Regions from separate parts of the Homo sapiens genome. Here all the other regions are linked to region 1. Evidence: fine-mapped expression QTL. A gene starts in region 1. Each other region holds a variant in brackets. All regions are shown on one strand. Distances are between the middles of the regions.

Evidence for each region. PIP is the estimated chance that this variant, and not a neighbour inherited with it, causes the effect.
Region 2: its variant is the best candidate, but not a certain one, in a credible set for the expression of MARS1 in whole blood (TOPMed, PIP 0.63).
Region 3: its variant is the best candidate, but not a certain one, in a credible set for the expression of MARS1 in whole blood (INTERVAL, PIP 0.82).

Annotation. Positions count from the first base shown.
Region 1 is chr12:57,479,815-57,490,077 of GRCh38, forward strand. MARS1 (methionyl-tRNA synthetase 1) reads left to right here and starts at 8,254. Exons shown (of 21, transcript NM_004990.4): 1 at 8,254-8,385; 2 at 9,205-9,295; 3 at 9,453-9,531; 4 at 9,610-9,744; 5 at 10,082-10,157. The coding sequence starts at 8,277. It overlaps ARHGAP9 (Rho GTPase activating protein 9), which reads right to left and starts at 52. Exons shown (of 18, transcript NM_032496.4): 1 at 1-52. RefSeq lists enhancers at 156-205, 376-465, 7,231-8,178, 7,992-8,381, 8,179-9,125.
Region 2 is chr12:57,330,784-57,341,046 of GRCh38, forward strand. The region is part of intron 2 of R3HDM2 (R3H domain containing 2); the gene reads right to left. Among named protein-coding and RNA genes, the nearest start is that of STAC3, 85 kb to the left of the region's middle. The variant G/C (reference allele first, on the strand shown) is at 5,778.
Region 3 is chr12:57,440,939-57,451,201 of GRCh38, forward strand. It overlaps INHBC (inhibin subunit beta C), which reads left to right. Exons shown (of 2, transcript NM_005538.4): 2 at 8,339-10,263. The coding sequence ends at 9,084. Among named protein-coding and RNA genes, the nearest start is that of INHBE, 9.2 kb to the right of the region's middle. The variant CTTTA/C (reference allele first, on the strand shown) is at 5,518.

The DNA of each region.
Region 1 (10,263 bases):
AGAAGAAAGAATCAGGTTCAAGACAGAAACAGGGAGACACAAGGTTAATGACAAAGACAAAAATGTGTGTTATTCTTTATTAAATTTATGCAAGCATCAATGTTTCCGTTACCAGTCACCTCAGACCATAGCTGCGTGCTTCCTGTGCAGACTCAGAGAGACATGGTGACAGAGAAACAGAAAGCCAAATAAATACCAAGACCAAATCAGAGAGAAAGACAAAGTGGGAGAAACACAGAGGGATTCAGAGTTGAAATATCACCACCCTCCCAATCCAGGACACGATTTTGGGAGCTGAGAAGCCTTGATACTGTCCTGTACACACAAGCCTCTTGAGGCAGGAGCTACTTTAGTGTGTGGGTTCATTCATGCTTTTTTTTTTTTGAGACGAAGTCTCGTTCTTGTCCCCCAGGCTGGAGTGTGATGGCGAGATCTCGGGTCACTGCAACTTCCGCCCCCCGGGTTCAAGTGATTCTCCTGTCTCAGTCCCCCGAGTAGCTGGGATTACAGGTGCCTGTCACCACACCTGGCTAGTTTTTTTATTTTTAGTAGAGACAGGGTTTCACCATGTTGGCCAGGCTGGTCTAGAACTCCTGACCTCAGGTGATTCACCCGCCTCAGCCTCCCAAAGTGCTGGGATTACAGGTGTGAGCCACTGCGCCCGGCCTCATTTATGCTTTTATCAAGGATTGATTGAGTGCCTCCTGCGTGCAAGGAGCAGTGTCAGGCACTGGAGATGAGAGAAGGGAATGAGCCCTTTTGGAGCTTAAGGAGAGACAGACCTTAACTAATGACACAATAAACTTAATAATTACAATTGAATCAGGAACAATGGACAAGTAATGCAAGACGCTATGACAGGTAGATAGGGGACTGATGCCAGCTTCTCCTTGGTGGAAGGTGGGAAGTGACCTTCCCTGGATTACCAGCACTTTAAAACCCACACTTCTGCTTCTGCCTTACCTGGCCACTCCTCTTTTCCTCTTCTCTCAGCTTCTCCACTGCACAATGTGAGGCTTTCTGTTTGGGTTTGGAGAGGTGGGTTAAGGAGCGAATGACCCTCCCCACTGGTGATATCAGAGAGCCAGCTCTCTTCCCCTGAGGGCTGGGTGGCTAGTACTGGGCTTCTGCCTCAGTGATCTTCCTAGTTTACTTCACTTCAACACATGGAGAATCCTACCCCTCAACTCTTCCTTCCCACTTCCAAAATAGTGACTAATTTCACCCATTTATTCACTTATTTATTCATTTGGTGTTCAGTGCTTGAATCCACCCTTTTTTTGCCTTCTCTGAAACTCTCTCTCCTATACTTTAGCTTGTTTTTGTTAGCTTCGTCGCATTCACTTTTAAACATATCCAAGTCTCTCCCATCTTTAGACAAACCTCCCCTTACTGGGCTTTCCAGGTACCACCATATATATGTCTCTCTCTCTTTCTTCTTCTCTTTTTTTTTTGAGACAGAGTCTTGCACTGTTGCCTGGGCTGGAGTGCGGTGGCACAATCTCTGCTCACTGCAACCTCCGCTTTCCAGGTTTAAGTGATTCTCCTGCCTCAGCCTCCTAAGTAGCTGGGATTAGAGGCGCCTGCCACTATGCCCGCTATTTTTTTTTGTATTTTTAGTACAGACAGGGTTTCACTATGTTGGCCAGGCTGGTCTCGAACTCCTGACCTCGTGATCTGCCCACCTCAGCCTCCCAAAGTGCTGGGATTACAGGCGTAAGCCACCGAGTCCAGCCTCTCTCTTTCTTTTTACAGTCGAACTTCTTGAGTTGCCTACACTGTAGAGGGGATCTCCATTTCCTGTCCCCTCACTCCGCCACCTTTTCAAAGTCACTCCTCAATAGAGTCACCCCCGACCTTGCCTGAGCATCCTGCAGTCCTTATGCAATCCTTATGTTGCTTGACATCTCAGTAGCAGGCAACACAATTGACCTTTCTCTCCTACAAACACTCTGCTGGTATCCCTCTTACCTTTCTGGCAGTTCCTTGTCTGTGGCATGAGAAATGACCTTCCTCTGCCTGTTCCTTAAACCACAGAAGCCTATCTGAGATCCTGTGCCCTGTGCTTTCTGCATACCCTCCCTGGGTGGTCTTATTCTCTCCCCAGCTCAAATGATTTCCATGTGCTGCTAAGGACTGTATCTCAAGTCCAGATCTTTCTCTGGGGCTCCCATCTAATCCACTGTCCACCAGAAAATCCACTTGAGTATTTCACAGGTACGACAAACTCAGTATGAACCAAACTGAACTTATCACAAACCTGTTTCTCTCCCAATACCACTATTTAGTTTAATATGAAATCAATAAATATTGGCCTGGTACAGTAGCTCACACCTATAATCCCAGCACTTTGGGAGGCCAAGGCAGAATATCACTTGAGCCTAGGAGCTTGAGGTGCAACATAGTGAGATCCTGCCTCTACAAAAAAAATTTTTTTTTTTTTTGAGTCGGAGTCTTGCTCTGTCGCCCAGACTGGAGTGCAGTGGCGTGATCTCGGCTCACTGCAACCTCCGCCTCCCAGGTTCATGCCATTCTCCTGCCTCATTCTCCTGAGCAGCTGGGACTACAGGTGCCCGCCACCATGTCCAGCTAATTTTTTGTATTTTTAATACAGACGGGGTTTCACTGTGTTAGCCAGGATGGTCTCGGTCTCCTGACCTCGTGATCCACCCGCCTCGGCCTCCCAAAGTCCTGGGATTACAGGCGTGAGCCACCGCGCCTGGCCAAAAATTTTTTTTAGTTAGCCAGGTATGGCAGTGTGTGCCTTGTAGTCCCAGCTGCTCGGGAGGCTGAGGTGGGAGTATCTATTGAACCTGGGAAGTTGAGGCTGCAGTGATGCGTGATAGTGCTACTGCACTCCAGCCTAGGCGACAGAGTGAGACCCTGTCTCAAAATAAATAAATAAAATAATTTAATAAATATTTATTGAATGTTTACTACCATATATGCCGGGCAGGAACTATGTGCTAGGCATTGTCAATTAAGATGGTAAATATGGGGCCGGGTGCAGTGGCTCACATCCAGCTCAATCCCAGCACTTTGGGAGGCTGAGGCAGGCAGATCACCTGAGGTCAGGAGTTCAAGACCAGCCTGGCCAATGTGGTGAAACCCCCATCTCTAATAAAAATACAAAAATCAGCTGGGCATGGCGGCAGGTGTCTGTACTCCCAGCTACTTGGGAGGCTGGGGTAGGAGAATTGCTTGAACCCAGGAGACGGAGGTTGCAGTGAGCTAAGATCATGCCACTGCGCTCCAGCCTGGGTGACGGAGCGAGACTCTGTCTTAAAACAAAACAAAAAAATATGATCCCTGCCCACTCATAACAATGAAAATATGATGTAATAATGATCACTATGATAGAGGAAATACTATCATCTGTTGTAGCACATAGAAAGTATGCCCTATTTCCCATGCCAGAAACCTAGCAGCCAACCTGAATTTATCTTGTTTCCTCGCCACCCACATTGATTCAATTGATTACTGAACACTTCAATTTATATTTTCCCAATCTACCTACTTTTTATCCCCACAACTACCACTCCTTTAGCCTGGATGATATAATTTCCTAACTAGTCTCATTGCATATAGTTCTCATTGCATATAGTTCTGCTCCCCTTCCAACCATTCCTGACACAGCAGCCAGAGTGACCTTTCTAAAACACATATGCCCTGCTACTCTCCTGACTTAGACTTTCCACATTTTATAATGTCATTTACAGATTCCCTCTCTACACTTTTCACAGTCTCCACCACAAACTCCACACTGCAGTCTTATGCGAATTCCTCACATTCTTAAAGTGCACTGAAATCTTAGATTCTTTGCATATGTTGTTTCCTTTGCCTGAAACACGTCCCTTCTCCACTCCCTCCAGTCTTCACCTAGATAACTCTTACGCATCACTGAGATCTCAGCTGAAAGATTACATGCACAGGAAAGCATCTCAGCCAGGCGTGATGGCTCACACCTGTAAACCCAACACCTTGGGAGGCTGAGGCGGGTGGATCACTTGAGGTCAGGAGTTTGAGACCAGCCTGGGCAACATGGTAAAACCCCATCCCTACTAAAAATACAAAACTTACCTGGGTGTGCTGGCCCAGCTACTGTAGTCCCAGCTACTTGGGAGCCTGAGGCACAAGAATCACTTGAACCTGGGAGGCAGAGATTGCACTGAGCTGAGATCATGCCACTGCACTCCAGCCTAGGTGACAGAGCAAGACCCTGTCTCAAAAAAAAAAAAAAAAAAAAAAAAAAATAAGGCCGGGTGCGGTGGCTCACACCTGTAATCCCAGCGCTTTGGGAAGCCGAAGCAGGCGAATCACAAGGTCAGGAGTTCGAGATCAGCCTGGCCAACATGGTGAAACCCTGTCTCTACTAAAAATACAAAAAATTAGCTGGGCATGGTGGTGGGCGCCTGTAATCCCAGCTACTTGGGAGGCTGAGGCAGGAGAATCGCTTGAACCCGGGAGGTGGAGGTTGCAGTGAGCCAAGATTGCGCCATTGCACTCCAGCCTGGGCGACAGTGTGAGACTCTGTCTCAAAAAAAAAAAAAAGCATCTTTTCACCCATTAGAGGGGCCCTAACTAGGAGGTACGATGGCAGGCTTTGCCTCCTCTATCATAACTTTAATCACACTTTAAGGATTATTTGATTTTCTGACTTTCAGGAAGTCTGTGAGTGCTGCCAAGGTAGCAGAAGCCCACATCCATTTTGTTGATAACTGTACCTTCAATGCCTTCTACAGTCACTTCTACAGTGATTTCTGGCATAAAGTCATAACTTTATGCCTCAGTTCCCTCATTAGTAAAATGGCGATGAGAGACCTACCTCAGTTTGTTTGTTTATTTATTTTAGACAGAGTCTCGTTCTGTTGCCAGCCTGGAGTACAGTGGTGCGATCCCGGCTCACTGCAACCTCTGCCTCCCAAGTTCAAGCAATTCTCCTGCCTCAGCCTCCCAAGTAGCTGGGATTACAGGCATGCGCCACCATGCCCAGCTAATTTTTGTATTTTTTAGTAGAGACAGGGTTTCACTATGTTGGCCAGGATGGTCTCGAACTCCTGACCTCAGGTGATCCGCCTGCCTCGGCCTCCCAAAGTGCTAGGATTATAGGTGTGAGCCACTGCGCCCAGCGTATTTATTTATTTTTTTTGAGACAGAGTCTGGCTCTGTCGTCCAGGCTGGAGTGCAATGGCACGATCTCAGCTCACTGCAACCTCTGCCTCCCGGGTTCAAGTGATTCTCCTGCCTCAGCATCCTAAGTAGCTGGGATTACAGGCATGCACCACCACACCCCGCCAATTTTTTGTATTTTTAGTAGAGACTGGGTTTCATCATGTTGGCCAGGTTGGTTTCGAACTCCTGACCTCAGGTGATTTGTCCACCTCGGCCTCCCAAAGTGCTAGGATTACAGGCATGAACCACCACGCCCAGCCTCTTGGCTAGTTTTAAAAACTATTTTTGGCCAGGAGCAGTGGCTCATGCCTGTAATCCCAGCGCTTTGGGAGGCCAAGGCAGGTGTATCACCTGAGTTCAGGAGTTTGAGACCAGCCTGGCCAACATGATGAAACCCCGTCTTTACTAAAAATACAAAAATTAGCCGGGCATGGTGGCAGGTGTCTGTAATCCCGGCTACTAGGGAGGCTGAGGCAGGAGAATCGCTTGAACCCAGGAGGCGGAGGTTGCAGTGAGCCAAGACCACACCATTGCACTCCAGCCTGGGCAATAAGAGTAAGACTCCATCTGAAAAAAAAAAAAAACAAAAAAACTATTTTTTTTATGTTGGCCAGGCAGTCTTGAATTCCTGGGCTCAAGTGATCCAGCTGCCCAAAGCACAGGGATTACAGGCATAAGTTACTGGGCCTGGCCTAGTTTTTTGTTTGTTTGTTTTGTTGTTGTTAATGTAACAACAGCCATTTTATTATAGTTTAACAATTGTATAGGTATGGAGCAGAAATTTGGGTAGGCCTTAGGTGGGTGATTCTTCTATCTCATGTGGCCTTGAGACCCTACCAAGGGTTACTTAAGAGTTTTCAGTGGGCAGATGGGCTGGTCTGGAAGGCTTCACTCACAAGTCTGGCACCTTGGTAAGGATGACTGGAATGCTGGGATTAGCTGGAGTTGTCAGACAGAATATCTACATGAGACCTCTCTAGCATGGCAGCTCAAAGTGGTAGGATTTCTTACATGGCAGCTCAAAGCTACCAGTGTGCTAGATAGCCTGCAACTGAAGCTGCAAAACTTCTTATGGCCTAGCTTCAAAAGGCCCAGAACCTCCATAGAATTTTCTGAGATCAAATATAAAGTGCTTAAAACAGTGCCTAGCTCATAAGTACTATTAGATATTAATTATTCTTAAAATAATATAAAGATGAATAAGAAGCGTCCCTTTCTCAATAACAGGTATGTGCTTCCTTGCATAATATATACTTATTGCCAAACTCTTAGCCATCTTGAATCTCAATTTTTTTTTTTTTGAGACGAAGTCTTGCTCTATTGTGCAGGCTGGAGTGTAGAGGCACGATCTCGGCTCACTGCAACCTCTGCCTCCTGGGTTCAAGTGATTCTCCTGGCTCAGCCTCCTGAGTAGCTGGGATGACAGGCGTGCACCACCACACCCAGCTAATTTTTGTATTTTCACTAAAGAAGGGGTTTCACCACGTTGGCCAGGCTGGTCCCAAACTCCTGACCTCAAGTCATCTGCTCGCCTCGGCCTCCCAACGTGCTGGGGTTACAGGCGTGAGCCACCGCGCCCGGCCTTACTTCTCAATTTCATCTTTTCCCTAGAGATGTTTGGCCGGGCGCGGCTGCACGCCTGTAATCCCAGCACTTTGGGAGGCTGAGGCGGGCGGATCACGAGGTCGGGGGATCGAGACCATCCTGGCTAACACGGTGAAACCCCGTCTCTACTAAAAATACAAAAAATTAGCCGAGCGTGGTGGCGGGCACCTGTAGTTCCAGCTACTCGGGAGGCTGAGGCAGGAGAATGGCGTGAACCCCGGGGGACGGAGGTTGCAGTGAGCCGAGATCGCGCCACTGCAGTCCAGACTGGGGGGCAGAGCAAGACTCCGTCTCAAAGAAAAAAAAAAAAAAGAGATGCTCTTCTACCCCTTTGATGAGACGTCGAGCTGTATATGAACTCAGACTGGTATTAATATTTTACTTGTCTACATTCTTTTTTTTCGAGACGGAGTTTCCTCTTGTTGCCCAGGCTGGAGTGCAATGGCGCGGTCTCGGCTCACTGCAACCTCCGCTTCCCGGGTTCAGGCGATTTTTTTTGCCTCAGTCTCCCGGGTAGCTGGGATTACAGGCGCCTGCCACCATGCCCAGCTAATTTTGTATTTTTAGTAGAGACGGGGTTTCAGCATGTTGGCCAGGCTGGTCTCGAACTGCTGACCTCAGGTGATCCGCCCGCCTCGACTCCCCAAAGTGCTGGATTACATGCATAAGCCACCGCGCCCGGCCTATGTACATTTTTGTTGTTGTTGTTGATAGGATGGATATGTACACTAACTTCCACTTTGTCACTAATTCCGCACATGGTAACTCCGAACTCTAAAACTCTGACCGTTAAGAGCTTGCATCGAGAGCCACTGCGAGTAGCTGCTGTTATGACATGGCCATTTCATTCTCCACAACAAGAGAAGCAGCCGCGGCTTCAGTCACCGCCCTCCAGCAGCGTAAGAGGATAAAAGTGCGACTTGCCCTAAAACCTAAACGTCTCTTCTGGATCTCCAGAAAAAAAGTGCTGCTCTAGGCCGGGCGCAGTGGCTCACGCCTGTAATCCTAGCACTTTGGCAGGCCGAGGCGGGCGGATCATCTGAGGTGAGGACTTCGAGACCAGCCTAGCCAAAATGGTCAAAGCCCGCCTCTACTAAAAATACAAAAATTAGCCGAGCGTGGTGGCACGTGCCTGTAGTCCCAGCTGCATGGGAGGCTGAGGCCGGAGAATCACTTGAACCCTGGAGGCAGAGGTTGCAGCGAGCCAAGACCGTGCCACTGCACTTCAGCCCAGGTGACAGAGGGAGACGCCCTCTCACAAAAAAAAAAAAAAAAAAAAAAAAGTGCAGTCTAGCCCGCATCTGCGGCCTCTTCATCTCGATGATAGTCTTTTCCTGTGTCTTAGCGTTGCATGATGGGAGAAATAGTCTACTTTCCGGTAGCGGTGCCAGGGCAGTGGCCTAATACGGAACTCCATTTCCCGGCGTGCCTCGCGGAGGCCGCTGAACTCAGAAGCGGGAGGCCGGTTCCGGTTGCATCAGCGAGGGATTCACGGCGAAATGAGACTGTTCGTGAGTGATGGCGTCCCGGGTTGCTTGCCGGTGCTGGCCGCCGCCGGGAGAGCCCGGGGCAGAGCAGAGGTGCTCATCAGCACTGTAGGCCCGGAAGGTACTCGTGCTGGTGCTGGTGGGCGGTGGATGGGGGGGCGGGACCGAAACACGCCAGATTCTCTGCAGCTGTCTTTGCCAAACCCCTAGCCCTCGCCACACACCCCAATCGACCACTTCTCCTATTATCCTTGATCACTCCACGCCTTCTTCCCTCCCAGTCACATCTTTCACTTCCTTTAATTACCCTCAATATAATACCCTTCCCTTATCTCTCTCCTCCCCTCTTCCGTCTTCCCGGTCCCCGCCTCACCCCAGTAAACTGCTCTTCCCTTCCCAACCTTCTCCTACACCTATCAGGCATCCCCCTCTGCTCTTTAGTTACTAGCATGACAGCCCCCAGGCACCCTTTTGTGTTCTTAGGAAATCCCTCTCTCCCCTCCTAACACACACACACGTTCCTTTCTGTTTACCTCTTCTCATTCTCAGCCGATTGTTTGGGTGACTCTTAGGAGGTTCTCTTGTAAGTCTTCTCAGTTCTTTTAATTTTGTTCTCCCACTGTGACCTTCAGATAATTATGAAGATATCCCAGTTACTTTCAGTCGTTAAGTTCTTGGCTGCAGCACTATCCCAATACCACCACCTCCTCTGCAGTCCCCATCTGTTGCTTCCAGCTGGCAGTTTCAGCTGAACACCTGCTGGCCTCTCCAGCCCATTCCGGACCACCCCCTTTCAGTGGTCCTATCCTGGAACTTCTGGGTTGAGACTGCCCATCTTTCTTTTTTTACTCACTGAACAATGCAAGGTTATCCTAAGTTGACAAAGTATTTCTTTTCTTTTCCTTTTTTTTTTTTAACCCATTTTCCATTCTTGCATCAGATTGTGTGGTCCCGTTCCTGACCCGGCCTAAGGTCCCTGTCTTGCAGCTGGATAGCGGCAACTACCTCTTCTCCACTAGTGCAATCTGCCGGTCAGTATTGGTCCTTGGTGTAGGGAGGTGGCTGAATCAAATCAGGCCTCACTGTCATTTGTGTGGCTTTATTTGCAGCCATTGTTTCCCTGTGTGATGAGAAATGGGCTAAATGGGCCCCTCTAAGTCCATCATCTGTTGCTCTCTCTCTGGGCAGATATTTTTTTTTGTTATCTGGCTGGGAGCAAGATGACCTCACTAACCAGTGGCTGGAATGGGAAGCGACAGAGCTGCAGGTAGGACTAAGGTATGGGGGATGTCAGGCAGGCCCTTGTTCTGCGTGGCCATCCTGACTCATGTCCCCTGCATTTTAGCCAGCTTTGTCTGCTGCCCTGTACTATTTAGTGGTCCAAGGCAAGAAGGGGGAAGATGTTCTTGGTTCAGTGCGGAGAGCCCTGACTCACATTGACCACAGCTTGAGTCGTCAGAACTGTCCTTTCCTGGCTGGGGTGAGTTGGGTCTTGAGATGAGGACTGGGGAAGGCTTATGGTGTAAGGATTAAGAGGGAAGACTGTATTCAGAGTGTTCGAACCCAACACTGCCACTTACTAGTAGTGTAATCTTGGCAAATCACTTAATCTCTCTAATCCTCAATTTTTTTCAGTTGTGAAATGGGATAATATTAGTACCTATCTCAGTGAGTTATTGTGAGGATTAAGTGAGATCATATAAAGTGCTTAATACAGTGCTTGACATATAAAGTGCTCAGTAAATGTTAGATATTACCATTGGGAAGAAACTGAGTGTCTCATTTGTGTACATTTTCCTTTTCTATCCCCAACAAAGGAGACAGAATCTCTAGCCGACATTGTTTTGTGGGGAGCCCTATACCCATTACTGCAAGATCCCGCCTACCTCCCTGGTGAGAACTGTGCATATCACTCCAACCCTAGGAGCTTGGTGTAGGGGTTACAGAATGGGCAGTAGAATACTGAGAACTCCCTTCAAGGTACAGCTTGACTGGGCAA
Region 2 (10,263 bases), 150 kb before region 1:
CGCCTCCCGGGTTCACGCCATTCTCCTGCCTCAGCCTCCCAAGTAGCTGGGACTACAGGCACCCGCCACCACGCCCTGCTAATTTTTTTGTATTTTTAGTAGAGAAGGGGTTTCACCATGTTAGCCAGATGGTCTCGATCTCCTGACCTTGTGATCTGCCCGCCTCGGCCTCCCAAAGTGCTGGGATTACAGGCGTGAGCCACCGTGCCCGGCCGGAATCTTTAGGGTTTTCTATATCTAAGATCCCATCGTCTGCAAATAGAGATAATTTTACTTTTTCCCTTCTAATTTTGATGCCTTTTCTTTCTTTTTCTTGCCTTGTCATTCCACCATCCTCTCTTGGCGGAATGACTGCAACATCCCTCTAATTGGTCTCTTTACTTCCACTTTCACCCCTACCATAGTATTTTGTAAACAGCAGCCACAATGATTGTGTAAAAACGTTGTTAGGTCATTTTACATCTTTGCTCAAAATCCCCCAATGGGTCTCCATCTCACTCAGAGCAGATGTCCCTAAAATGATCTACAAGACCTTAAATGACCTGACCACCAGTGTTTGTTCTTTGACCCTATCTCTTACAAAACCCCAAATACCTCCTATACCATTTCCTTGACTTTATTTTTCTCGTCGTTTATCATTGTCAAACTATCAATTTATTTTACTATTTATCTTGTTTATTATCTCTCTGTCCCCAAGGTACACTCAAAGAGGGCAGGGATTTTGATTTTGCTTTGCTCGCTGCTTATAAACAGGGTCTAGAATAGTGCCTGGCATATAATAAGTATATTTTAAATAAGTGAATTAAAGTAATTTGCAGGCTGGGCAATATAGGGAAACTCTGTCTCTGTAAAATTTTTTTATGGCTCACGCCTGTAATCCCAGCACTTTGGGAGGCCGAGGTGGGTGGGTCATGAGGTCAGGAGATCAAGACCATCCTGGCTAACACGGTGAAACCCCGTCTCCGCTAAAAATACAAAAAATTAGCCGGGCGTGGTGGCAGGCGCCTGTAGTACCAGCTACTTGGGAGGCTGAGGCAGGAGAATGACATGAACCCGGGACGCGGAGCTTGCAGTGAGCCAAGATCACGCCACTGTACTACAGTGTGGGTGACAGAGCAAGACTCTGTCTAAAAAAAAAAAAAAATTTTTTTTTTTAATTAGCTAGGCATGGTGGCATGTACCTGTAGTCCCAGATACTTGAAAGGGTGAGGTAGCAGGATCATTTGAGCCCAGGAGGCTATGGTGAGCTGTGATTGTACCATTGGATTCCAGCCTGGACCACAGAGCAAGACCCTGTCTTGAAAAGAAAAAAGTAATTTGCCATATTAATAGAATGTAAACAGTGGCCAGGTATGATGATCCATGCCTGTAATCCCAGAACTTTGGAAGGCTGAGGTGGGAGGATTGCTTGAGCCTAGGATTTTGAGACCAGCCTGAGCAACATAGTGGAACCCTGTCTCTACAAAAATAAAAATAAAAAAATAAACCAGGTGTGGTGACACACACCTGTAGTCCCAGCTACTTGGGAGGCTGAGGTAAGAGGATCGCTTGAGCCTGGGAGGTCAAGGCTACAGTGAGCTGTGACTGCATCACTCCAGCACTCCAGCCTGGAGTGAGACCCTGTCTCAAAAAAAAAAAAAAAAAAAAAAAAAGTAGGTGGCAAAGCTAGAATTCAACTCAAGAATGCCTCCAAATTCATGTTCTTTCTTTGATATCACACTGTTTTCTCAAAACGGTCTGCTGCTTTCCCAAATTCAGATCAGGATGGCTTTCCCAAATTTTCACCTAAGAGATCAGTGTTTCTCATTCAAAATAAAGCTTAGCAAGAAAAGATCTGCAAGATCTAAAAAACTGTGTGAACTGAGATTCAAGCTTATAACCTGTGAATCTAACGTGATACTTTTTTCCTCCTGCTTTGTGCTTATCCAATGAACCAAACCACATTCCTTATTCTTACCCTAAGGTGAGTTATCCAGTCAGATACTGAACACACTTTTTGTCCCTCTTTGCTTAATAGAGAATCTAAAATTGGTTTTTCCTGAGATGGAGGTGATGATATAATGATTCATATCTTACAGAGAGCTGAGTAGCTCAAAAGAAAGGAATAAACTCATGGGCCTTTGGATATCGCTTTCAATCCTTTAGCTCTGTAAATACCTAAGTATGAGAACACTGGGAGAGCAAAGAATAAGACCCACCATAATTTCTCAAGTATCCCTTGACATAAAGTGTAAGAAGGGAAACGCAAAACTCTTGACTTCTTTCATTTACAAGATCTAGAGAGGGAAATTTCTATGAATGAATCATTCTTATTCTCTTGGGCATTAAAATAGGAAAAGGAACATGCCATGATCTGCTATGACAAGGAACCAACACTGAGCTCAGTGAAATATCCCAGACCTAAGTCAATATATACAAACAAGCTAGAGAAGTAAAGATGGAAAACATGGAAGCTACCCCCAGCTATTCCTCTATCTCCAGACCAAAGAGAGAGACAACTATATAATGTTGACAGGGATCTACCATGTCAGATTGGAGTAGAAAAAAAAGAAAAACATGGAAGAAAAAAGCTAATAATTTCCGATGCAGATTTAAAAGCTATCAAAATAAGAAAGGCAGCTTCAGGCCAGGCACAGTGGCTCATGCCTGTAATCCCAACACTTTGGGAGGACAAAGTGGGTGGATCACCTAATGTCAGGAGTTTGAGACCAGCCTGGCCAACATGGTGAAACCCCGTCTCTACTAAAAATACAAAAAAATTAGCCAGGCATGGTGGCAGGCGCCTGTAATCCCAGCTACTTTGAAGGCTGAGGCAGGAGAATTGCTTGAATCTGGGAGGCAGAGGTTGCAGTGGGCTGAGATTGCGCCACTGCAGCCTGGGTGACAAGAGCGAAACTCCATCTCAAAATAAATAAATAAATACATAAATAAATATTTCTAGAGGGAAGGAGGGAGGAAGGAAGGAAGAAAGGAAGGGCACTGGATGTGGTGGCTCATGCCTGTAATCCCAGCACTTTTGGAGGCTGAGGCGGGTGGATGACGAGGTTAGGAGTTCGAGACCAGCCTGGCTAACGTGGCGAAACCCCATCTCTACTAAAAATACAAAAAATTAGCCGGGCGTGGTGGCACGTGCCTGTAATCCCAACTACTTGGGAGGCTGAGGCAGAAGAGCTTGAACCCAGGAGGCAGAGGCTGCAACGAGCCGAGACTGCGCCACTGCACTCCAGCCTGGGACAGAGCGAGACTCCGTCTCAAAAAAAAAAAAGAAAAAGAAAGAAAGGCAGCTTCACATATATAAAAAAAACCTCCTCTAGTCCAGAAGGTCATAGTTAGACTTAGACTTAGCACAAGCCCAACTGGCTGCAGTAGCAGCTCAATTCACAGATAGGTGGTAGGTATTTCCCACCATATCCTCCCCCAATCAAATCACATTAAGAATATGCAATTATCAAATTTATATTTAACAGCAAATTTAAAAAACACCTTACACCATTTTTGAAACATTTTATTTCACAGTTTCTATATACAGTTAGGGTGTTAATGTCACCTATTATCGAATAATAAATTCTGCAAAGTTAAATGATAATGTGTTTATGTTCTATCTGTTCATTGGCCCCTGGGTCAGCCAATCTGATCCAAGACTCCATGGCAACAGGCTCTATCACTAAGAGCCTCAAGATGAGATTTCCCTTGCCTTTTTTTTTTTGAAATAAAGCATTTTCCATAGAAACTGCTGCAAAAACTGTCAGAGAATAGTCTATACAGACAAATAAGAAATGCTGCCATTCTGTTATACTAAAAATGAATGGGGCAAGGAGTGAATAGCAAAGACAATCAATCTATGCAAATAACAAGGGATCCCAAAAACCCTGGAGATTTTTCCTTGTTGAATTTCAGTAAAGAAATTCAAGAATCTTTAAACTGCTGGAAAACCAACACCAGGATATATTGAGGAATCAGTGTAGGGATATATTGAGGAATCAGTGAGGAATCAGTGTTCAGCTAAATCACAATATTTAAACTTCCCATGCCTCAATATACGGAGAGCTAAAGACTTTAGTTTAGGACTGCTGGCCAGGTGTCGTGGCTCATGTCTGTAATCCCAGCACTTTGAGAGGCCAAAGCAGGAGTGTCACCTGAGGCTAGCAGTTTGAGAGCAGCCTGGGCAACATAGTGAGACCCCACCTCTACCAAAAAAAAAAAAAAAAGTTAGCTGGGTGTAGTGGTACCTCTGTGTAGTCCCAGCTACTTGAGAGGCTATAGCAGGAGGATCCCTTGAGCCCAGGAGGTTGAGGCTATAGTGAGCTATGATTGGGCCATTGCACTCCAGCCTGGGCAACAGAGCAAGACTCGGTCACTACAAAATATATAACATATATTTTTTCATATATATAATTTAGTACTGCTGATCTGTGTCAATCTCCCATACTTTTTATTTTTTTGACACAGAGTCTTGCTCTGTCACCCAGGCTGGAGTGCAATGGCATAATCTCAACTCACTGCAACCTCTGCCTCCTGGGTTCAAGTGATTCTCCTGCCTTAGCCTCCCAAGTAGCTGGGACTACAGACGCCTGCCACCACACCTGGCTAATTTTTGTATTTTTAGTAGACACGGGGTTTCACCATGTTGGCCAGGCTGGCCTCAAACTCCTGACCTCAGCCTCCCAAAGTGCTGGGATTACAGGCGTGAGCCATCACGCCCGGCCACCTTTTTTTTTTTTTTTTTTTTTAAGTGACAGCATCTTGCTATGTTGCCCATGCTGGAGTGCAGTGGCCTAGTCACAGCTTGCTGCAACTTTGAACTCCTGGGCTCAACCAATCCTCCTGCCTCAGCCTCCCAAATAGCTGGGACTACAGGCAGGTGCCACCATACCCAGCTAACTTTTTTTTTTTTTTTTTGGTAGGGACAGGTTCTTATTAGGTTGCCCAGGCTGGCCTTGAACTCCTGGCCTCACAAGATCTTCCCATGTCGGCCTCCCAAAGTGTTGAGATTATAGGTGTTAGCCAGGCATGGTGGCTCACCGTTGCAAACCCAGCAATTTGGGAAGCTGAAGCAGGAGGATGGCTTGAGCCTATGAGTTCCATCATCCATAAGGAACTTAAATGTACAAGAGAAAAACAAACAACCCCATTAAAAAGTGGGAAAAGGATATGAACAGACACTTCTCAAAAGAAGACATACATGCAGACAACAAGCATATGGAAAAAAAGCTCAATCTCACTGATAATTAGAGAAATGCCAATCAAAAACACCCACAATGAGATACCATACCATAGTATCTAATGGTATCTCATTGTGGGTTTTTTTTTTTTAATTTCATACCTCACACCAGTCAGAATGGCTATTATTAAAAAGTCAAAAAATAACAGATGCTGGTGAGGTTACAGTGAAAAGGAAACACTTATACACTATTGATGGGAGTGTAAATTGTTCAATCATTATGGAAAGCAGTATGATGGTTCCTCAAAGAGCTAAAAGCAGAACTACCATTCAACCCAGCAATCCCATTACTGAGTTTATACCTAGAGGAATATAAATCATTCTACCAACATAAAGACACATTCACATGAATGTTCACTGCAACACTATTCAGAATAGCAAAGACGTGGTCGATTTAGGTTTAATCAACCTAAATGCCCATCAATGACAGACTGGATAAAGAAAATGTGGTACATACACCATGGAATACTATGCAGCCATAAAAAAGAATGAGATAATGTCTTTTGCAGGAACAGGGATGAAGCTCAAGGCTATTATCCTTAGCAAACTAAGGCAG[G/C]AACAGAAAACCAAATACCGCATGTTATCACTTATAAGTGGGAGCTAAATGATAAGAACTTGTGGACACAAAGAAGAAAACAATACACACTGGGGTCTACATGAGCGGGGAGGGTGACAGGAGGGAGAGGACCAGAAAAGATAACTATTGGGTACTGGGCTTAACACTGGTGGCAAAATAATATGTATAACAAACCCCTGTGATACATGTTTACCTGTGTAACAAACCATCATATATACCCCCAAACCTAAAATAAAAGTTTAAAAAAAAAAAAAAAGAGGCTATGGAATAGAACAAAGGTTTCTAGAGCTAGGCAATGCTAATGTTTACATTACAAAATTGTCTTCCATGCTTTACTTATAAGTAGATTCTTGAAGTTGAAAAGTAATTTTTCAAATAAATTTTTGAAAATTATTTGTAAAAAAGTCTAGATCTCATGTGTTAGCACTTGAGTTCCAAGGGACCCACACAGCAGACTAACGTGAGAAGCAATAGACAGAATTTCAGAAATTCCTAAACCTGAGAAAATCTTTTCTGGAATGCTATTTCAAATTTCCCAAGAATTCTCTTTCTCTCTTTTTGTTGTTGTTGTTGTTGTTGTTGTTGTTTTGAGACAGGGTCTCGCTCTGTTGCCCAGGTTGGATGGAGTATAGTGGTGCTATCTCAGCTCACTGTGGCCCCAATCTCATGGGCTCAAGTGACCTCCTGCCTCAGCCTTCCAATTAGCTGAGCCTACAGGGCCATACACTTGGCTGAATTTTTTTTGTTCTTTTGTAGAGTCTGGATCTCCCTATCTTGCCTAGGCTGGTTTCGAACTCGGGCTCAAGGGATCTGCCTATCTTGGCCTCCCAAAGTGCTGGGATTGCAGGTATGAGCCACCGTGCCCAGCCCAAATTTCCCAAGAATTCTTAAGGCAACAACTCAGAAAATGGGGTAGAAGCAACTTTCAGTGGGAGTCATAAATTGTATTAAAGCATTTTTTTAAGTCACTGCAAAGAAAGTCACTAGTAGGCCTATCTGCACGTTAAATTTCCTCTATACCATCAGCAAAAACAAAAAACAAACAAAAAAACCCGAAACATTGCACTCTAGTTCTATAACCTTGTGTATGTGTGTAAAGATCTTGGGTTAGCAGATATAGAAAGAGAGCATATTTATTAATCTCAGAAGGACAAGAAGGTGCATGAAGAGGGTATCTTCTCAGAGATGTTACCTCCCAATATGAAAGCCCCAGACTCGAATCATAGGAAGCTATCTTTCTCAACTAATAATAGCAGCAGCTATCATTTACTGTATTCCAAACACTATGTCCAGGTTATACAGGTCATCACAATTATTTGAATTTAACAAATGCTAAAAATTTTCATCTGTCAGATATGAACACTAGAAATTTTTATATTTTTTAATTTTTATGATTAGAAAAGTACTGCAGGTTTCTTTATACTTAGAAAAAACACGCATGGCCGGGTGCAGTGGCTCACGCCTGTAATCTCAGCTCTTTGTGAGGCTGAGATGGGCGGATCACCTGAGGTCAGGAGTTCAAGACCAGCCTGACCAACATGGAGAAACCCTGTCTCTACTAAAAATACAAAATTATCCGGGCATGGTGGCGCATGCCTGTACTCCCAGCTACTCAGAAGGCTGAGGCAGGAGAATTGCTTGAACCCGGGAGGCAGAGGTTGCGGTGAGCCAAGATCGCACCATTGCACTCCAGTCTGGGCAACAAGAGCAAAGCTCCATCTCAAAAACAAAAACAAAAACAAAAACAACACGCACAATTATAGAGAAGAAAACAAACAAACAAAAATACCCATGATCAACAACTCAGAGATAACTGCTATTAACAACATGATGTTTTGAGATATCTCTTTCTAAACTTTGTTTCCATATTAGTACAGAATTTGTATCCATATTGGTTGGATATGTTCAAGTGATCCTCCTGCCTCAGCCTCCCGAGTAACTGGGACTACAGGCGTGAGCCACCACGCCCAGCTAATTTATTTGCATTTTTGGTAGAGACGAGGTTTCACCATATAGCCCAGGCTGGTCTCGAACCCCAGACCTCAAGTGATCCACCCACCCTGGCCTCCCAAAGTAACATGCTGGGCTTACAAGTGTGAGCCACAATGCCTGGTCCTGATGTTCATTTTAAAAACTCAATCTCGTACATGGCTTGAAAATCTCTTATGGCTTCCTCAAAAATTACATGTGATCTGAAGACACAAATAGTACATCCCCCTGCCATTTTTTTTTTTTCAAAGGGAGAGAGAGAGAGAGAGATAGGGTCTCATTCTGCCACCTGGGCTGGACTCTATTTCTAAATATTAATAATAATGGCTAATGCTAAGTCTTTAAATGACCAGGAACTGTCTTAAAAGATTTATTATGTATATATTAACTCTTTTAATCCTCAAAACAACCCTAGGAAGTGGGTACTAATTATTGTCTTCGTTTTACAAATGTGTGTGCATGTGTGTGTCTTTTTAAAAGGCAGAGTCTTGCTCCGTTGCCCAGGCTGGAGTGCAGAGGTGTGATCTCGGTTCACTGCAACCTCTGCCCAGTAGCTGGGATTACAGGTGTTCGCCACCATACCCGGCTAAATTTTTTTGTAGTTTTAGTAGAGACTGGGTTTCACCATGTTGGCCAGGCTGGTCTCAAACTCCTGACCTCAAGTGATCCATCCGCCTCAGCCTCCCAAGGTGCTGGGATTACAGGTGTAAGCCACTACGTCTGACCCATTTTACAAATGGAGACGTTAAATAATTTGGCCAAGGTCACAGAGCAGCAATTGGCAAAGCTGGGATTTGAATTCCAGGGGGCAAGCATTCAACCAGTAAGTTTTTTCTAAAGAGAAGCTCTTGGCAGATGTGGTGGCTCATGACTGTAATTCCAGCACTTTGGGAGGCCGGTGGGTGGATCACGAGGTCAGAAGTTCAAGACCAACCTGGCCAACATGGTGAAACCCCATCTGTACTAAAAATACAAAAATTAGCTGGATGTGGTGGCATGCACCTGTAATGCCAGCTACTTGGGAGGCTGAGGCAGGAGAACTGCTTGAACCCGGGAGGTGGAAGTTGCAGTGAGCCAAGATCATGCCACTGCAGTCCAGCCTGGGTGACAGAGAAAGACTCCATCTAAAAAAAAAAAAAAGAGAGAGAGAGAAGGAGAAGCTGTTAACAGTGAGAGCTGTTAAGGGAGTGGGCTAGGAGAGGAAGATATCAGAGAGAAGAGAATTAAGTAGGTATAGTAACTTTTAGGCACAGTAGTGTCCTTCCAACATATATATCACATTTTTAATTATCCCAAACGGGGTGATGCTAAAAACAACCATTTATAAAAGTTGTTCTTGATCTTTCCTTCTTCCAAAAACAAAAAACAAAAAAAGTAGGGAGAAAAGGGGATAAAAAGAAACAGAAATCTTACTTCTCTAACATCTTTCAATAGCTTTTCTTTTTCCTTGACCTCTTCCAAAACCTTGATGGTTAGAAAATAAAAGATTTCAAAAGAAGGCACTCCCAGTTGAAATAAAAAGAACTTTTGGCAATTTTTCCCTTGGTAATGACAAACATTTAAGAAAGACTTTAGGTCTATCTTATCTACCCTCAAATGAAAGGAAAACCAAGTAAACAAAACCGTCATCTTTTAATTTCACAGCAGTTTTCTTCCCCCTCAAAGGCTATTCCTGTCCTAGTTGCAGACAGGGAACTGCTCCCAGTGACGTCAGAGCAGTCTCCCAGCAACGATTAATGAGGGTTGTCCACCACAGGGGTTTCCTGAAAAGCTAGCAAGAAATTATCCACAAATTTGCTGCAATATCAAGATGCAAGGATGTGGTGGAATTTCCCTTAACCCTTATAGCTCCTGTCTCTGGCAAACATCTAAATAGGTTATTCTTCTAGAATTCTCTCCATTTGCCCTAGGATTATCTTCCTTTTTCTCCTCCTACCACACCCCACCCCCCAAAAATAGATTGTGTTGGTCTGAAACATTTATGGCTGTAATAAATATTAATATAATTGAACTATCATAGAAAAATAAGAATACCTAATGTAAGCTGAGAAGCAGACATTATTACTCTTTTCACTTCACACAAAGAATTCAGAGTAAATGAAAGCACAGAACAGAAGAGAAAATAAAGACAGAAAATAAACCAGCATATTTTTAAAGGTACTTTTCCACATATGTTACCTAAACACACATTGACAGATAGGTAAACCCTTAATTTTCCTAGGCTCTAGTTTACTGAGTTTTTCAAACTGACCTCTGCAGCCCTCTAGAAATCAGCGGTATTAAAATGGAATTGCATGAAAAGCGACTGGAAGCCCAGATACTCAATCCAAAAAAAAAAAAAATGGGTTGGGCTGTTATGCTCACACCTAAGAGTATATATAACAATTTCTTCCTAAAGCTTCGCTTTAGCTACATACATCAAAATTAGAATTTTGTTCTAAACTACAATGTCAAGGAATTTTACATAACTACCTAT
Region 3 (10,263 bases), 39 kb before region 1:
GGCTCATGCTTGTAATCCCAACACTTTGGGAGGCCAGGGTGGGAGGATCACTTGAGGCCAGGAGTTTGAGACCACCCTGGTCAATATAGCAAGATGTTTCTTTAAAACAAACAAACAAACAAACAAAACAAAAAGCCGGGTGCTGTGGCTCACGCCTGTAATCCCAGCACTTTGGGAGGCCAAAACGGGTGGATCACCTGAGGTCAGGAGTTCGAGATCAGCCTGACCAACATGGAGAAACCCATCTCTACCAAAAATACAAAAAATTAGCCAGGTGTGGTGGTGCATGTCTGTAATCCCAGCTACCCGGGAGGCTGAGGCAAGAGAATTGCTTGAACCCAGGGGGTGGAGGTTGCAGTGAGCCGAGTTCGTGCCATTGCACTCCAGCCTGGGCAACAAGAGTGAAATTCCATCTCAAAAAAAAAAAAAAAAAAAAAAAAGCCAGGTGTGGTGGTACATGCCTGTAATCCCAGCTACTGGGGAGGCTGAGGCAGGAGAATTGCTTGAACCCAGGAGGCAGAGGTTGCAGTGAGCCAAGATCACGTCATTGCACTTCAGCCTGGGCAATAAGATCAAAACTCCGTCTCAAAAAAAAAAAAAAAAAAAGTCAATGCAACATATTTTAGGTTTTTGTGATGGTAGCACCCCACTTCTGATACTAATTTTTGTTTCAGTTACTTATCAATATAACAAACCAGCCCAAAACATAGAGGCTTAAAACAACACATTCATTATTTCTCATGATTCTTTTTTTTTTTTTTTAGATGGAGTCTCACTCTGTTGCCCAGGCTGGAGTGCAGTGGCACAGTCTTGGGTCACTGCAACCTCCATCTCCAGGGTTCAAGAGATTCTCTTCCCTCAGCCTCCTGAGTAGTTGGGATTATAGGTGCCCGCCACCATGCCTGGCTTTTTTTGTATTTTTAGTAGAGACAGGGTTTCACCATGTTGGACAGGCTGGTCTTGAACTCCTGACTTCAAGTGATCCACCCACCTCAGCCTCCCAAAGTGCTGGGATTACAAGCATGAGCCATTGCCCCCAGCCACTCTCATGGTTTTGTGGCTTGACTGTGCTTATCTGGACAGTTCTTCTGCTCCATGTGGTGTAGCTGAGGTCTCCCATGCAACTTCATTTGGGGACTCAGATGGGACTGGAACATATAAGATGGTCTCTAATCCTCCAAAGTCTCTCTCCACATGACTTCTCCTAATTTAGTAGTCTAGCTCAACTTCCTTTAAAGCACTGCGGCTGGCTTCCAAGAGTGGAATGCCTCAATATGTAAGTACTCAATAAACACCATGCTTGCTAATGTCTCACTGCCCAAATCAAGTCACATGGCTAAGCCCAGAATTAATATGGAAAGGGACAGCACAAAGTCATGAATACTGGGAGGTGTTGGCCTTTGGGGCCAACAGTGTAATAGTCTACTACAGCCCCTGTTGGTCTTGTGTTTGCCTGCCATAACTGGAGTGACTTAAAAGGTACTAACTATAGGGTGCTTTGTGACCTAGCAAGGAAAAGATTAGTTGGGCCAGTCAGACTCTTTTAGGATTTTGGAATTGGGACACTGGAAGATCTGCTCACTTAGGAGGAGCTGAGCAAAAGGTCCTATAGACTTGGGACCTGGGCCACAATTTTGGGACCTGAGGAAGCTAACAAGGAGGCAGAAGTAGTAGATCCACAGAGAGAGAAGAGTGGAACTGACTTATCTAGAGAGAGAGATGAAAGAGATCTTATTGGCTCTGAGAGCTGTCAAGAGCAGCCTTGTTCCTGTTGGGCACGTTGGCTCACACCTGTAATCCCAGCACTTTGGGAGGTTGAGGTGGGCGGGTCACCTAAGGTCAGGAGTTCAAGACCAGCCTGGCCAACATGGGGGAAACCCTGTCTCTACTAAAAATACAAAAATTAGCTGGGCATGGTGGCAGGTGCCTCTAATCCCAGCTACTCGGGAGGCAGAGGCAGGAGAATTGCTTGAATCCAGGAGGCTGAGGTTGCAGTGAGCCGAGATTGCGCCACTGCGCTCCAGCCCAGGCGACAAGAGTGAGACTCCGTCTCAAAAAAAAAAAAAAAAGAACCTTATTCCTGACTTTCCAATTTACATGAAGCCTAGTTGAACTTCATACCCCGCCTTTTTGAGCCCATGAGAGTATCAGTTCCATTCCCATAATAAAGCACTCTTTTTTTTTTTTTTTTTTTTTTTGAGACGGAGTCTTGCTCTGTTGCCATGCTGGAGTGCAGTGGTGCGACCTCGGCTCACTGCAACCTCTGCCTCCTGGGTTCAAGTGATTCTCCTGCCTCAGCCTCCTGAGTAGCTGGGACTACAGGGGCGTGCCACCATGCCCAGCTAATTTTTTTTTCTTTTTTTAAGACAGAGTTTCACTCTTGTTGCCCAGGCTGGAGTGCAATGGCATGATCTCAGCTCACCGCAACCTCCGACTCCCAGGTTCAAGCAATTCTCCTGCCTCAGCCTCCCGAGTAGCTGGGATTACAGGCATGCGCCACCACGCCCGGCTAATTTTGTATTTTTAGTAGAGATGGGGTTTCTCCATGTTGGTCAGGCTTGTCTCGAACTCCTGACCTCAGGTGATCCACCCACCTTGGCCTCCCAAAGTGCTGGGATTACAGGCATGAGCCACTGCGCCGGGCCTCATAAAACATTTTTCACTTAAAAAAAAAAATGGCTAAGGCCAAATTACAATGGGTATTTAACTGTTTCCTAAAAGAGTTAGGACTTTATTAACTAATAAGGTTTTTGAGACCATGAATTTTATGATCCATCCATGTTTTGGGAAAAGAATCCTGATGTTAAAATAATTATAGAAATGAAAGACCATTCAACAAGTATTTTGTTTGTTTGTTTGTTTGTTTTTGAGACAGAGTCTGGCTCTGTCACCCAGGCTGGAGTGCAGTGGCGTGATCTCTGCTCACTGCAACCTTTGCCTCCTGAGTTCAAGCAATTCTCCTGCCTCAGCCTCCTGAGTAGCTGGGACTACAGGTGCATGCCACCACACTCGGCTAATTTTTGTATGTTTAGTAGAAATGGGGTTTCACCCTGTTGGCCAGGCTGATCTCGAATTCATGACCTCATGACCTCAGGTGATCCTCCCATCTCAGCCTCCCAAAGTGCAGGGATTACAGGTGTGAGCCACCACACCTGGTCTCAACAAGTGTTTATTGAGTGCTTACTAAATACCAAGTACTAGGGATACAATGGTGAGCCATACAGGCACAACCGCTGTTTTCATGGAGCTTACATTCTAGCTGCAGGGAAGAAAGAGGGGTAGGAGAAATACGTAGTAAACAAATGAACGAAGAACCACACTGGACCGGACTTGGTGGCTCATGCCTGTAATCCCAGCACTTTGGGAGGCCGAGGTAGGAGGATCACAAGGTCAGGAGTTCCGGAGCGGCCTGGCCAACATGGCAAAACTCCGTCTCTACTAAAAATACAAAAATTAGCAGGGCATGGTGGTGCATGCCTGTAATCCCAGCTACTCAGGAGGCTGAGGCAGGAGAATTGCTTGAACCGGGTAGGTGGAGGTTGCAGTGAGCCAAGATCGTACCACTGCAATCTAGCCTGGGTGACAGAGCAAGACTCTGTCTCAGAAAAAAAAAAAAAAAGAACCACACTGATTACAGAGCATGATAATGGCTATACAAACAGTTAAGCAGGATGATGTATTAGAGAGATGGAGGCAGAATTGAAGGCTATTTTTATTTTATTTTATTTTATTACGTTTTATTCTATTTTATTTCATTTTTGAGACAGCCTTGCTCTGTTGCCCAGGCTAGAGTGCAGTGGCATGATCTTGGCTCATTGCAGCTTTGACCTCCTGGGCTCAAGTGATTCTCCCGAGTAGCTGGGATTACAGATGTGTTCCTCCATGCCCAGCTATTTTTTATTTATTTATATATTTTTTAGTTATTGTAGAGACAGGGTCTCACTATGTTGCCCAGTCGGTCTCAAACTCCTGGCCTCAAGCAATCCTGCCACCTTGACCTCCCATAGTGCTGCGATTACAGGCATGTGCCACCACGCCTGGCTGAAGCCTGCTTTAGATAGATTAGGAAGGAAGCCTGAAGCCTCTCTGAGGAGGAGACATCTGAGCCGAATGCCAAAAAGAACTCAGTCATTCAAAGATCTTGGAAAGACATTCCAGGGAAAGAGACTAGCAAGTGTAAAGGCTATGAGATAGCTTTATGTTTGGTGAATTTGAGGAACAGAAAAAGGCCAGTATAGGCAGGGTGTAGTAGTTAAGTGTCAAACAAGTTTCCTATTTCAAGGAGTTTAGATTTTATCCAAAGAGCAAGGGGAAGACTTTGAAGTGTTTTAAGCTGAGAAGATAAAACTAATCAGATTTATAAAAAGATCACTGGCTGATATTTGGAGAATGGTTTGGAGAGCAAGAGTGAATCACTTGAGTGAACGAAAGCTACAGTTAAAGAAAAAGATGGTTGTGAGTTGGACTAATGAGTAGTAGAGGAAGTGGGGAGAAGTGAAATTATATTATGAATTAGAAGTAGAGTTGATAAAACTTTCAGATAATTTCAAAGTAGAGGATAAACACAATCAAGATTTTGCCTTAAGCAATGCGTTTATGGGGAGAAGTTTGGAGAAGGAACAGGTTTGGACTGGGGGGATACATTTAGACTTCCTTGTACAGGATTGAGGCTGGGCACATTGACTTATGCCTGTGATCTCAGCACTTTGGGAGGCCAAGGTGAGAGGATCACTTAAGGCCAGGAGTTCAAGACCAGTCTGGGTAACATAGTGAGACCCCCCGCCCATCTCCATGTAAATTTTTTTTTTTTTTTTTTTTTGGAGACAGAATCTCGCTCTGTCATCCAGGCTAGAGTGCAATGCAATGGCATGATCTCGGCTCACTGCAACCTCTGCCTCGCAGGTTCAAGTGATTCTCCTGCCTCAGCCTCCCAAGTAGCTGGGATTACAGGTGCCCGCAGCATGCCTGGCTAATTTTTGGTGGTTTTTTTGTTTGTTTGTTTGTTCGTTTTTTTGAGACAGAGTCTCGCTGTGTTGCCCAGGGTGGAGTGCAGTGGCGCGATGTCAGCTCACTGCAACCTCTGTCTCCTGGGTTCAAGCAATTCTCCTGCCTCAGCCTCCCGAGTAGCTGGGATTACAGGCATGTGCCAACATGCCTGGCTGATTTTTTGTAATTTTAGTAGAGACAGGGTTTCACCATGTTGGCCAGGTTGGTCTCGAACTCCTGACCTCAACTGATCCACCTGCCTCTGCCTCCCAAAGTGCTGGGATTACAGGCGTGAGCCACCACACCCGGCCTAAAAATTTTTTTTTAATTAAAAAAAGAGATTGAAATATCATTGGATGTCCAAGTCAAATATCAGATAGCCACTTGGACATACAAGGCTGGGGCTCAGGGAGAGGTCAGGACCAGATATATATATTTGGAAGTCATCAGCATATAGATGGAATTGAAAGCCATGGAATGGATGATCATTCTGGGAGAGGGTATAGATAGTGAAGAGAAGGGAGCTTAGGA[CTTTA/C]TTTATTTATTTATTTATTTATTTATTTATTTATTTATTTATTTATTTATTTGAGACAGGGTCTCATTTTGTTGCCCAGCCTGGAGTGCAGTGGTGCGTTGATGTCTCACTATAGCCTTGATCTCCCAGGGTCAAGCAATCCTTCCACCTTAGCCCTCCGTAGTAGCTGGGACTACAGGTGTACACTAGTACGCCTGGGTAATTTTGTAATTTTTGTAGAGACAGGGTTTTGCCAAGTTGTCCAGGCTGATCTCACTGATCTCAAACTCCTGGACTCAAGCCATGCATCCACCTCAGTCTCCCAAAGTTCTGGGACAAGTGTGAGCCACCACGCCTGGCCTGACTTCCAACATTTAAAGGTTGGGCCGACAAAGAGGAGCTGTCGATAGAGGAGAAAAAGATAGAGTGGCCACTGTTATAAAAGCCAAGAGAAGAAAATATGGAAGAAGGAGGGAGTGGTTAACTGTGTCAAACACTGCTTAAAGGTCAAGTAAGATGAATACAAATGGTTAGATTTGCTTTGTGGAAGGTGTTGGTGATCTTGACGTGTGCAATTTCAGTAGAGTGGAGGGAATAGAAACCCAACTAAGATGTTCAGTAAGGAAGGTGAGGGATGATAAGAGGAAATTGGGCAGTAGTAATAGGGATACAAAGAAATGCACAGACATTAGAACCATTCTGGTGAGACAAGGTATAGGGGGAATGAAGAAAGTAATCATAGTTTGTTTTTTTTTTCTTTTTTTGAGGCGGAGCCTCGCTCTGTCTCTCAGGATGGAGTGCAATGGTGTGGTCTTGGCTCATTGCAACCTCTGCCTCCCAAGTTCAAGCGATTCTCCTGCCTCAGCCTCCCAAGTAGCTGGGATTACAGGCGCCCACTGCCACGCCTGGCTGATTTTTGTATTTTTAGTAGAGATGGGGTTTCACCATGTTGGCCAGGCTTGTCTCAAACTCCTGACCTAAGGTGATCCACCTGCCTCAGCCTCCCAAAGTGCTGGGATTACAGACGTGAGCCACCACGCCTAGCTGATCATAGAGTTTTTACAGGTGATGAGGGTAGTGGCACCACCAAGAATGAAGAGGGGGTATATAGGAAGGAAAGTAATTATTTTTCAGGTTGAAAAAATTGATTAAAAAAAATATATAGGCCAGGCGCGGTGGCTTACGCCTGTAATCCCAGCGCTTTGGGAGGCTAAGCAGGGCGAATCACTTGAGGTGAGGAGTTCAAGACCAGCCTGACCAACATGGAGAAACCCTGTCTCTACTAAAAATACAAAATTAGCTGGGTGCAGCTACTTGGGAGGCTGAGGCAGGAGAATTGCTTGAACCCGAGAGGCAGCGGTTGCAGTGAGCTGAGATTGCGCCATTGCACTCCAGCCTGGGCAACAGGAACAAAACTCCGTCTCAAAAAAAAAAAAAAAAAAAAAAAAAAAAAAATATATATATATATATATATATATATATATAAAATATATGTGTGTGTGCTTGTGTTTGTATATATGTATGCATACATATATACATATATATACACACATGCATACACACATATGTATTTATAAGATGGGGTCTTGCCATGTTGCCTGGGCTGGTCTTGGGCATGTTGCCTCAGTCTCCCAAGTAGCTGGGATTACAGGCATGCACTACTCCACCCAGCTCTGGGACAAATTGATTTTAATGTGCTGCCAGGACATTCATGTGACAAAAGTAAGTAGTTAGAAATCTAGGCCTGAAGCTTGGTGATTTCCAAATCTATATGTCCGGTCCAAATATGCAAAATGCTCTGGTCTGGGCATACAGATTTGGGAATCACCAACATAAAAATTGTGTTGCTTGGCTGGGCGTGGTGGCTCACGCCTGTAATCCCAGCACTTTGGGAGACTGAGGTGAGTGGATCACAAGGTCAGGAGTTCAAGACCAGCCTGGCCAACATGGTGAAACCCCATCTCTACTAAAAATACAAAAATTAACTGGGAGTGGTGGCAGGCACCTGTAATCCCAGCTATTCAGGAGGCTGAGGCAGAAGAATCACTTGAACCCAGGAGGCAGAGGTTGCAGTGAGCCAACCTCACGCCACTGCACTCCAGCCTAGGTGACAGAATGAGACTCCGTCTAAAAAAAAAAAAAAAAAAAAAAATTATGTTGCTTGACCATGAGTCTAATTAAGAGCTCCCTTAATGTAGACTAGAAGGAAATGAAAGTCCAAGACAGACCTTGGAAAACTCTGATATTAAAGGGATGGTCAGAGAAAGAAAAGCCAGCAAAGAAAACCAGGAAGAATTATAACAGAGTTGTGTCATGGAAGCCAAGAGAGAAAAGATTTTCAGGAAGGAAAGAATTGTCAGCAGTGCTGTCTTAGTCCGTTTTGTGCTGGTGTAACAGAATACCACAGACTAGGTCATTTATAATGAGCAGAAATATATTAACTCATGGTTCTGGTGGCTGGGAAGTCCAAGATCAAGGGGCTGGCATCTGGCGAGGGCCTTCTTGCTTCTTGCTGTGTTATTCCATGGCAGAAGGGCAAAGAGAGGGTGGGGCTGATAATTAAACTTATCCTTTTATAAGGTACCCATTCCCAAGATAAGGGCATTAATCCATTCATGAAGGTGGTATTCCCATGACCCAAACACCTCCCATTAGGCCCCACTTCCCAACACCACTGCATTGGAGGTCCAATTTCCAGCACATGAACTTTGGAGGACATGTTTAAACTGTAGCAAATGCCAAGTGCTATAGACAACTCAAGAATGCTGAGTACAGAGAAATAGTTGGTAGAACTGACAGTCAGAAGGCCGCAATGACTGGGGCTTCTTATGTCCACAGGCCTCTCCACCATCAACCAGACTCGTCTTGATTTTCACTTCTCCTCTGATAGAACTGCTGGTGACAGGGAGGTCCAGCAGGCCAGTCTCATGTTCTTTGTGCAGCTCCCTTCCAATACCACTTGGACCTTGAAAGTGAGAGTCCTTGTGCTGGGTCCACATAATACCAACCTCACCTTGGCTACTCAGTACCTGCTGGAGGTGGATGCCAGTGGCTGGCATCAACTCCCCCTAGGGCCTGAAGCTCAAGCTGCCTGCAGCCAGGGGCACCTGACCCTGGAGCTGGTACTTGAAGGCCAGGTAGCCCAGAGCTCAGTCATCCTGGGTGGAGCTGCCCATAGGCCTTTTGTGGCAGCCCGGGTGAGAGTTGGGGGCAAACACCAGATTCACCGACGAGGCATCGACTGCCAAGGAGGGTCCAGGATGTGCTGTCGACAAGAGTTTTTTGTGGACTTCCGTGAGATTGGCTGGCACGACTGGATCATCCAGCCTGAGGGCTACGCCATGAACTTCTGCATAGGGCAGTGCCCACTACACATAGCAGGCATGCCTGGTATTGCTGCCTCCTTTCACACTGCAGTGCTCAATCTTCTCAAGGCCAACACAGCTGCAGGCACCACTGGAGGGGGCTCATGCTGTGTACCCACGGCCCGGCGCCCCCTGTCTCTGCTCTATTATGACAGGGACAGCAACATTGTCAAGACTGACATACCTGACATGGTAGTAGAGGCCTGTGGGTGCAGTTAGTCTATGTGTGGTATGGGCAGCCCAAGGTTGCATGGGAAAACACGCCCCTACAGAAGTGCACTTCCTTGAGAGGAGGGAATGACCTCATTCTCTGTCCAGAATGTGGACTCCCTCTTCCTGAGCATCTTATGGAAATTACCCCACCTTTGACTTGAAGAAACCTTCATCTAAAGCAAGTCACTGTGCCATCTTCCTGACCACTACCCTCTTTCCTAGGGCATAGTCCATCCCGCTAGTCCATCCCGCTAGCCCCACTCCAGGGACTCAGACCCATCTCCAACCATGAGCAATGCCATCTGGTTCCCAGGCAAAGACACCCTTAGCTCACCTTTAATAGACCCCATAACCCACTATGCCTTCCTGTCCTTTCTACTCAATGGTCCCCACTCCAAGATGAGTTGACACAACCCCTTCCCCCAATTTTTGTGGATCTCCAGAGAGGCCCTTCTTTGGATTCACCAAAGTTTAGATCACTGCTGCCCAAAATAGAGGCTTACCTACCCCCCTCTTTGTTGTGAGCCCCTGTCCTTCTTAGTTGTCCAGGTGAACTACTAAAGCTCTCTTTGCATACCTTCATCCATTTTTTGTCCTTCTCTGCCTTTCTCTATGCCCTTAAGGGCTGACTTGCCTGAGCTCTATCACCTGAGCTCCCCTGCCCTCTGGCTTCCTGCTGAGGTCAGGGCATTTCTTATCCCTGTTCCCTCTCTGTCTAGGTGTCATGGTTCTGTGTAACTGTGGCTATTCTGTGTCCCTACACTACCTGGCTACCCCCTTCCATGGCCCCAGCTCTGCCTACATTCTGATATAACTGCTTCAACACTAGGGGGTCCTAAAGGCTTTCTATCTTGCTAGTCCCTGGGGCCTCAACATCTCATACTGGTTCCCTTAACTCTGCCTATACCTCTGTAAATAATTCCTTCACTAAGTTCTCTTGATGAAGCAAAAACAGACAGCTGAAAAGTCCTCTATCTCCTACAAGGGCCCTAACTGGCACCCCAGATGACACAGAGCCTGCCTGCTTATGCTGTAGTCTGCCTACTCTGCTGTCTCTTCACATGGTCTCCTCAGAACTGAACTATTGTATCCATCTCACACTTTATGCCTCTTCTTTCTTAGGCACCCCGTCCCTCCATCCTTCCAGAACCATCTTTGAGGTCTCATGGCTAATAAAAACCTAGG